Linked DNA regions of Homo sapiens. The protein of the gene in region 1 interacts with the protein of each later gene in a pairwise test. Each region holds a gene or a part of one and is shown in the gene's direction. Other genes may lie near its edges.

Region 1 (4,183 bases):
TGCCAGAACTGGTTCGGGCCCAGGTGCCCTTCAGCTCTTGCCTGGAGGCCTACGGGGCCCCTGAGCAGGTCGATGACTTCTGGAGCACGGCCCTGCAGGCCAAGTCAGTAGCTGTCAAGTAAGTCCTCTGGTCGGGGCCTGAGGCTGTGGGTCTATGGCAGAGCTATCCCAGAGGATACTTCTGTCTCTTCCCTGTTCTTTCATCCCTTTGTGGTTGGAACCTCAGGGTTGAATCAGTTGGGCTGGTAATCTGGCCCTGATGGAACCAAGGGGCCCTGGTAGGGGGGACACGGGTACTGACTCTATCTGTCACCTTGTCCTGCCCCAACCACTCCCTCTTCTGTGGCACAGGGTCTCTTTGTAGTGTAGCCTCTCTTCATTGCCCCTCAGTCATGGCTGAGCACAGGCACTTAGGATCAGCTGTGGGCAGAATTTGGATTTCCAGCAAATAGCCACACTTTGAGCCTAGCCATTGGCACCTGGCATGGGTGTGAGACCTGAAAAAGGGCTTTGGTCTCGGGGAGTCAGCTACCCAGCCCTTTGCTGCTCCTGCCAGTGAAACAGCTCTTCCTCTCTGTGTGGGTTTTTTTTTTTTTTCTATGTGTGGGTCTTGCTATGTTTTTTTCCCTACGTGTGGGTCTTGCTATGTTGCCCAGGTTGGTCTCTTAACTCCTGGGCTCAAGCAGTCGTCCTGCCTTGGCCTCCCAAAGTGCTGGAATTACAGATATGAGCCACCATGCCTGGGCTTTTTTCTTTTTCTTTTTTTTGTTGACAGCCTTCCTTCTGGCCTCTACTGCTCCTCGTTGGCCGAGGACAGGCATCAGACACCTGCCCAGGGGAAGAGAAGAATATGGAGGATCTTCTGGGTTATTGGGACTTCTACCCATGAGGGGCTGAACCCCAGGTGGGAGTTTCAGGAGAGGAAAACCCTGGGGATTGTCTGGGTACCAGCACAGTCTCTCTTCCCTAGGACCACACGATTTGCCTCATTCCCTGACTACCTGGTCATCCAGATCAAGAAGTTCACCTTCGGCTTAGACTGGGTGCCCAAGAAACTGGGTATGGCTGCTGGAATGAGGGAGGTTACACAGAAAATGCTAGAAAAAGAAGGGGCTTTAACACATATAAACTAGTGTTTCTCAAAGTTTCCTCTGAAAGAGGAAAAAAAATCACCTTCAATGTTTCAAAATTTATCTAGTTTGAAAGCACTAACTAAAAATATTAAAAGACTTCTTTGATTGTTATAGGTATGATTTACAACCAAAAGTGATTTTTGTAGTTTTTTAAAATAATTGGTAAAATGTTTTCATTTTGATAATCTTGAAACAATTAATTCTCGTGAGTCTTACAGGTCCCTGACTGTCATTTGAGAACTCGTGATGTACCTTCATTTTCTAGATAAGGAAGTTGAGACTCACAGGAATATAAAATCATTCTGTCTCACAAGTTCTAGGCCCCCTGCCCTGTCCATAGATTATTTATGGTAGATCTAGGACCAGCATCCTGGCCTCCCAACTCCCAGGCTTAGTATTATTTGTCTTATACTGGGACCCCTAAGATGGGTGCCGTGCTTTTAGCAGCTCCTCTTTACAGAGCAGTTCTGACATAGGGGGCAGGGGATTGAGGTTCCCGAATCACTTTCCAGGTAGGCCTCCGGGAGCTGCTGAGGTGACCCTTTTCCCACAGATGTGTCCATCGAGATGCCAGAGGAGCTCGACATCTCCCAGTTGAGGGGCACAGGGCTGCAGCCCGGAGAGGAGGAGCTGCCAGACATTGCCCCACCCCTGGTCACTCCGGATGAGCCCAAAGGTAGCCTTGGTTTCTATGGCAACGAAGACGAAGACTCCTTCTGCTCCCCTCACTTCTCCTCTCCGACATGTTAGTGACTCTTCTTCCTGCCTGTCTCTCTCCCGTGCTGATGGGGGCCTCTCTGCCTTGCATCCCCTGCCCCTGTCCTTTGTGTTTCTCCTGTCCTCCCTTTCAAATTTCCTCTGCCCTCTTTGATTGACATGGGGCCTCCCCAGCGCACTCCTAGCCACCTTCTGGGTGTGGATGGCAGCAGTGCCAGCTAGTGGCCTCTCTGCCCTTGTTACCTCCCTGGTTTGGGTAGGGTGGGGGTATCATGCTCCAGAAACAGGGCCCATTCTGTGAGAATGGGCAGGGACCCACATTACAATTGTGTGGTCATTTTGGTTTTGGGATAAGGTGCCAATCCATGGGAGAAAAATGCATGGAATGGGTGATTGGAAGAGGGCTGGGTCCTGGGGGAGGGAGGAGGAGCAAACAGTGGCCCAATCAGTCGGTCCGTGTACCCACAATTCCCATTACAGCGCCCATGCTGGATGAATCAGTCATCATCCAGCTGGTGGAGATGGGATTCCCTATGGACGCCTGCCGCAAAGCTGTCTACTACACGGGCAACAGCGGGGCTGAGGCCGCCATGAACTGGGTCATGTCACACATGGATGATCCAGGTAGGCTGGGGTGGGGAGCAGGGTGGGGCAGGGCCTCCATCCTCCCCCAAACACATCAACCCCTTCACATCCACAGATTTTGCAAACCCCCTCATCCTGCCTGGCTCTAGTGGGCCGGGCTCCACAAGCGCAGCAGCCGACCCCCCTCCTGAGGACTGTGTGACCACCATTGTCTCCATGGGCTTCTCCCGGGACCAGGCCTTGAAAGCGCTGCGGGCCACGGTATGGGCTGCCCCAGCTAAGGACATGGGGCCAGTGGGGAAGAAGGGGGTGGGAATGAGGGGCCATCCTTCTTGAGCAAGACCAAAGACAACAGGTGTGGTCTGGCCGAGGTTGGGCACCACTCTTTTGTGGCTGCGATGAAGGAGCTGAAGCCTGCGTTCACTGCTGGGTTTTTTGCCCCAGAACTTGTTAAAAATGTAATGCTTCTGTTTGGCCGGGCGCGGTGGCTCACGCCTGTAATCCCAGCACTTTGGGAGGGTGAGGTGGGCGGATCACGCGGTCAGCAGATCAAGACCATCCTGGCTAACACGGTGAAACCCCGTCTCTACGAAAAATACAAAAAATTAACCAAGCGTGGTGGTGGGCGTCTGTAGTCCCAGCTACTTGGGAGGCTGAGGCAGGAGAAAGGCGTGAACCCGGGAGGCGGAGCTTGCAGTGAGCCGAGATCGCGCCACTGCACTCCAGCCTGGGCGACAGAGCAAGACTCCGTCTCAAGAAAAAAAGTAATGCTTCCTTCCTCTCCAAGAACAATAGTTTAGAACGGGCTGTGGACTGGATCTTCAGTCACATTGACGACCTGGATGCTGAAGCTGCCATGGACATCTCAGAGGGCCGCTCAGCTGCCGACTCCATCTCTGAGTCTGTGCCAGTGGGACCTAAAGTCCGGGATGGTCCTGGAAGTGAGTATCCCCAGGAAGCAGGACAGGCCTGGTGGAATCTGGTCAGTCTACTACACCAGATCCCTCATTCAGGCAGCTCTGCCCTCCTCAGGAGTCAGGGGCTTCTTTCCACCTCAACGTGGCATCTGAGGGTGGGGTTCTCTGACATGGAGACAGGCTCTGGCCCAGTACCTGCCTCACATTCCCTGAAACTCCTGTCCTGAGTCTGAGCTGTTGTCTGGATCTTTGGGCCATCACTCAAGCATTCCTCTTCTGTTTCCTTCTCTGACCCCCTCTCTCCTTTCCTAGAGTATCAGCTCTTTGCCTTCATTAGTCACATGGGCACCTCTACCATGTGTGGTCACTACGTCTGCCACATCAAGAAAGAAGGCAGGTGAGTGCTGGCCACATGCGTTTTGAATGGAGAATGGTGGTGGGAATGAGGAGGGCCATTTGGAAGTCCTTGGGATAGCTATGGGAGAAGGTGAAGGGACTGCCTGATGGGGACATAAAGTGCCAGAGAGTGACAGAAGGTCTTGCAGCAGTGATTGGCCCAAGGGTTGGATCTGGCCACCAGCTTTTTTTTTAAATAGAGATGGGATCTCACTATGTTGCCCAGGCTGGTCTTGAACTCCTGAGCTCAAGTGATCCTTCTGCCTCGGCCTCCCAAAGTGCTAGGATTACAGGCATGAGCTACCGTGCCTGGCCAGGCCCCCTGCCTTTGTAAATAAATTTTCACTGGAACCTGGACACACTTGTTTATGTGTTGTTTGTGCCTGTTTTCACGCTGCGGCAGGAAAGTTGAGTCGTTGTGTCAGAGACCAGAGA
Region 2 (5,192 bases), on another chromosome or scaffold:
ATTTAATATTTCCATCAACAGTGCACACGGGTTCCAATTTCTGCACATCTTCACTGACACTTGTTATTTTCTGCTTTTTTTTTTTAAAGTGGCCATTCTAATGGGTATAAGGTGATACCTCATTTGGTTTTGATTTGCATTTTCCTTATGATTAGTGATGTTGATAGTCTCTTCATATGCCTGCTGGCTATTTGTATGTCTTCATTAAAGGAAGAATGTCTATACAAGTCTTTTGCACATTTTAAAATTGAGTTATTTTTTTTTTTGTTATTGAGTTATAGAAGTTCTTTATATATTCTGTATATCAGAATATATATACCACAAAACCAACACTGTGATTATTTCTGATGTTATAATTATAAAAGTTTGGGCAAGCCATGAAAAGTATAAGGCAGAACTTAAATATCATTTGAATTCCCACTATCCCTGGATAACAATTTGGCCATGTGTTAAGCATCTCTTTATGCACAAAAACAGACATAATCAACAGGATCATGTTGTAAGTGTTGTTTTCCTTTGGGGAAATTACTGACAAATGAAACCTTTTTGGGCAAGGGGTTGCTCTTCTCTTCTCTTTCCCACTCTGCCCATACCTGTCACCCCAAATCCTTAGTAACAGGCTGGGGAATTATATTTCATAATGTTTTCATGGTCATGTAATCTTACATAAATATGTATGGAGTGGGGTCGTTCATGATTTTTTTTTAAATGAGGTATATTGTATGTACTTCCCTGCATCCTGTTTTTATCACTTAAAGATGTATCACTTAGAGATAGATTAAATACAGACTAACACCCTTAATTTCTTTTACCAAGTTAGTTCCTTATTTTGTTATTGCCTGTTGTGGCTTGGGTTTTGACCAGTAGACACAGTGCTGCCATTAATATCATTCTGTATATCCTCAGGGAGATTTTAGTCCTAAGCGGAGTAGGTTCCCAGGACAAGGAATTGTTCTCAGCAGTATCTTTTCTCCTGCTTATCTCATTTATTATTACAAATTCAACCATTTTATTGTTCTATCCATCGCTTTTAAATTGGGGTAGAAGTTACAGTGAAAAACACAAATCTTAAGTGTGCAGTTCATTATAAGTTTTGACCAATGTATACATTCATTTTGACAAATGTATACACTCATGTTATACTCCAAACAATTTCTATACTCCAAACAAAATATTGTTTGTTGTACTCCAAACAATATTTCTGTCACCCTAAAAAGTTCTTTAGTGTCTCTTTTCAGGCAGTCTCTACTCTCTCATAGGCAACCACTGTTCCTGTTTCTTTCACCATGGGTTAGTTTTGCATGTCCTTGAACTTCATGTAGATGGAGTCACACGGTTTGAAAGTTTTTGTGTCTGACTTATTTTGCCCAGTGTAATGTTGTTGAAATTCATCCATATTTTTATATTGTATCTGTTGTTTGTTCCTTTTTTCAGGACACTATTTCATTTTATAAAAATACCAGAATTTTTTTGTTTTTTTGTTCTCTTGTTGATGGACAGTTAGGTTGTTTCCAGTTTGGGGGTATTATGAACAAAGCTGCTGTGAGCATTATTGTTTTGGGGAGGCAGTTTTCATTTCTCTTGAGTGAATACCTAGGCACGGAGCTGCTGGATGATGCGGTGCTAAAGAGTTTTCCAAAGTGGTTGGGGAAGTGAGTATTTTTAATTTAAAATGGATAGTCAGTTCCTTCATTAAAGGGCTTAAACTCACCAGTGACTGGTGAATTTCTACCAGTGGCTCTCCACGTCTCCACCAGCAAAGAGAGTTTCTCTCTTTTTAAAGTTGTGCCAGTCTGATGAAGCCAGAGTGAGAGCTTGCTGTCACTCTAATTTGTAGTTCCCTGAGTGCTTAAGATGGCATCATCATTTTTTAAAAAGCTCTCCAGAAAATTCAAATGTACAGGCAGGATTAAGAATGCTGCTATTGAAAGGTGACAGGGGGAAGACAAAGATCTGACCTCTTCAGGCAGTAGCACCAAGAATGCAGGGTGGATGTTCATTATTTAGGATCAGGGAGACTTCTACAAATTTGTTTGTGGATAGGCTAAAGTGACTGATGAGAAGTGAGAATAAGTTTTTAGAAATATTGGGCAGAGATGGGATTAAGAATGGAGGTGAAGGTATTAGATTCTGCAAGGATCAGGAATAGGGGAGAAGGAACGCACAGTGCACAGTTGCCTGGAATCATTTTGCACAGTGCCTGAGGTTTCTTTGTATCCAGTGGGAAAATTAATTGGTATTCGTGATCATTTGTATAATGAGTAAACTTTCAAATAGGGTTGTTTAAAGGGACTGAATTTCACCCATCTGGAAAATTTTGCCATCCAGACTGGCTCACTCCAGAGGTGCCAGGTAGCTGAAGTTTCTGAAGAGCTGGACATCTATGTTATATGGTGTGTGCAGCCCACATAGGCCTGGTTTCCCACTTAACTAAACGCTTTGTATCAAGAATGGACTTGTTTGGGAAGGGAATATTTTGTAAGATGATGCCTAGTATTGTCTGAGAGAGATAGAGCTTTCAGGTTAAGATCTTGAGGCTTGCACCAAGTGCAAAAAATGAAAATCAGAGTGCATTGTGTTGGGGAAAAAAAAGTGAGTTTGGTTCCTTTTGGGGAAGAGTGGGACTCATGTACACGAGCAGAATGGAGGCTGATACTTCATCTCATTTAGCTGCTTGTTTGTTAGTACTAAACAGGATTAGTATGAAAACAGGAAGTTCTCAGCTGGAGACTTTAAAGGAGAAAGGAGGAATATTAAAATTCCCTTTGTTTTGTGAAAGCCACTGAAATTTAGGTTTTGGTTGTTACCATGCTATACCCTAGCCCATCCTGACTGATAGAGGCATTGCCTGACACAGAACCCTGCCATCATCTCATTCTACAGGATTGGTGCTCCATGGTAGAGCCAGGGTATTTTTTCTTAATAATTAAAGTATTTTTTTTTACCTTTCCTCCGTTAAGGTGGACTTAGGTGAAGGCAAGATTTGCTTCTGTTGTGAAGAATTTCAACCAGCCAAGTGCACAGACAAAGAAAATGCCTTGAAACTCTTTCCGGTTCAGCCCTGTAGTGCTGTTCACCTTCTACTTAAGGTACCTCAAACAGATTCCCACCCGCACGGTAAATACACCACGGAGCCCCCAAAGAAGGCAAACTTACTTGAAATATTCCTGTTCTATTACCTCCCTCAAACAATTAAGCTGCTGAAAGCGCATGTGAGTGACCCCAGAGACAGAATTGAATGCAGAAAGAACCACAGATTATTGTGTGTGTTAAATTATGTATGGACAGCTTTCTTTGTGTTGAAGAACTGTAAGATAGTAAAAAATGGAAAGGAGCCTGACTATATATATGTATATGTATACACATACACACATATTTCCACATATAAACATATGCATACGTACATATGTATACCTACACACACATATACGGTGTAGCTTTTAGCAAAACCTTTAAGTCGCACACTCGTGTGTCATTGTTCTGATGCTCATTTGTTTGCTTACATGGGTCATATGGGCCACTGAGTACTACCAGTCTGCAACACGTAGACTAAGGAGAGAGATTGGCCAGAAAATATGGGGGAATTGAAGCACCTTAGCTCTTGTTTAATAAGCAACAACTATAATAAGCCAAAGGTATTAAACAAACAGATGATCCCAGTTGAAGAGAAATACAAAATTAGCCTTCATCAGGGAATTGGATAAAAATTGTGCCCTGACTTAAGGAACATTAGCTCAGTGAGTGACAAAATCAACTGGTGAACCCTGAGGTATGGCTTTTTGAGAGTCCACTTCTGCCGGTTTTCTTTAGATATTTGTTTTGGGTTTCATTTTGGTGGGGAGGAAGAATCTCCAAGGAAAGAGAGAACTGTTCCAAGCTACCAGCTCTGGGTTGTGTGGGATGTGGAAATGGCCTGCTTTCCATGGCTTCTGCATTTTTGGTAGCTGAGTCACCCCCAAACTTTCTGAGCCAGGACTTAGCTTGGGGAAAGCCCCACTCAAGGAGCCAGGACTGTACCAACAGAAGCGTTTGGAATGGCCTTTGCTATTTTGAGATGTGTGTTTAGTGGAGAGAAGTCCTATTTACACTCTGGCTGGGCCAGCTCCTTCAGTGTCCTCGTCGTGTGCATGGGGCAGCACAGCCAATTGCTCTTGAAATAGAATTAGTGGCCACAAATTAAGCAGTGTGCTGTGCTGGTGGGAGGCTGTGGGAGGGAGGAGGCTGGGAATTGCTATCCCTGGGGAAATCAGCCTCAGAAGAGAAGCTCACTGCTCTCCTGGAAGGAATGTTTCTCGACAGTATTCTGATGCTTGCAAAAAGAAATACTATCATACCACGTTGTTCTGTGACAGAAAGCTTCTAAGATAAGTTTTTGGAATTAAGAAGTACACATTATTGCATGAGGGTCATAATAATAGCCAGCATTTATTTGGGCACTTTCCACGAGCCAAACACCATCTAAGTCCTTTACATGCATCCTCTCCTGAGAATTGTCTTATGGAGGCAGCGTTATTATTATTTTAAAGATTTTCTACATTGTATTCTGGTGATGTTTGTTGAAGTACTTAGTGGTGCCATTGTTTCCTTGCCCCAGAAAGTCCTCTTTGCCCTGTGTGCCTTGAATGCCCTGACCACCACCGTCTGCTTGGTGGCCGCTGCCCTCCGCTACCTCCAGATATTCGCAACCAGGAGATCCTGCATCGTAAGTCTATGCAAGGGCATCATGGCCACGTTTCCGCTGAGCCAGCCCATGGACCCCTTCGTGTCATCCACTGCCTCTCTCCCCGTGCCTTTGTAATGAAGGCTGTTGACTAACTGAGCTGCTGTTTAATCAGGATGAATCCCAGATTTCTGCTGAAGAAGCGGAGGATCATGGACGCATCCCCGACCCTGATGATTTTGTGCCGCCTGTGCCTCCCCCTTCCTATTTTGCCACGTTTTACTCGTGCACACCCCGGATGAACCGCAGGTATCGTTCCTGAGTTCCCCTGCAGTCTGAGTGGGATGCTGTGGGTTCTGAAGACTGAAGTGTCTCCAGAACTCACCACATGAGATCTCACTTTTCTTTGAAAAAGAAAAAGAAAAATTTTTCCTGACTTGAGGAACGTTAGCCCAATGAGTGACAAAATCAGCTAGTGAACCCTGTGGTATGGCTTTTAGAGAGTCCACCTCTGCCAGCCTTCTTTAGAAAA

The links.
Region 2: the proteins of USP5 (region 1) and ENTREP1 interact in a two-hybrid assay, tested with the Homo sapiens proteins (one large-scale study listed by IntAct).

What each region holds. Positions count from the first base shown.
Region 1 is NC_000012.12:6,861,500-6,865,682, forward strand, and holds part of USP5 (ubiquitin carboxyl-terminal hydrolase 5), read left to right. Parts: coding exon 1-118; intron 119-970; coding exon 971-1,059; intron 1,060-1,645; exon of another isoform or gene 1,646-1,686; coding exon 1,687-1,878; intron 1,879-2,330; coding exon 2,331-2,474; intron 2,475-2,550; coding exon 2,551-2,696; intron 2,697-3,222; coding exon 3,223-3,376; intron 3,377-3,664; coding exon 3,665-3,749; intron 3,750-4,183. UniProt on the Homo sapiens protein: Deubiquitinating enzyme that participates in a wide range of cellular processes by specifically cleaving isopeptide bonds between ubiquitin and substrate proteins or ubiquitin itself.
Region 2 is NC_000009.12:69,372,776-69,377,967, forward strand, and holds part of ENTREP1 (endosomal transmembrane epsin interactor 1), read left to right. Parts: intron 1-2,960; coding exon 2,961-3,089; intron 3,090-4,594; coding exon 4,595-4,702; intron 4,703-4,835; coding exon 4,836-4,969; intron 4,970-5,192. UniProt on the Homo sapiens protein: Functions as an activator of the E3 ubiquitin protein ligase ITCH in the ubiquitination of the CXCL12-activated CXCR4 receptor. Thereby, triggers CXCR4 endocytosis and desensitization, negatively regulating the CXCL12/CXCR4 signaling pathway.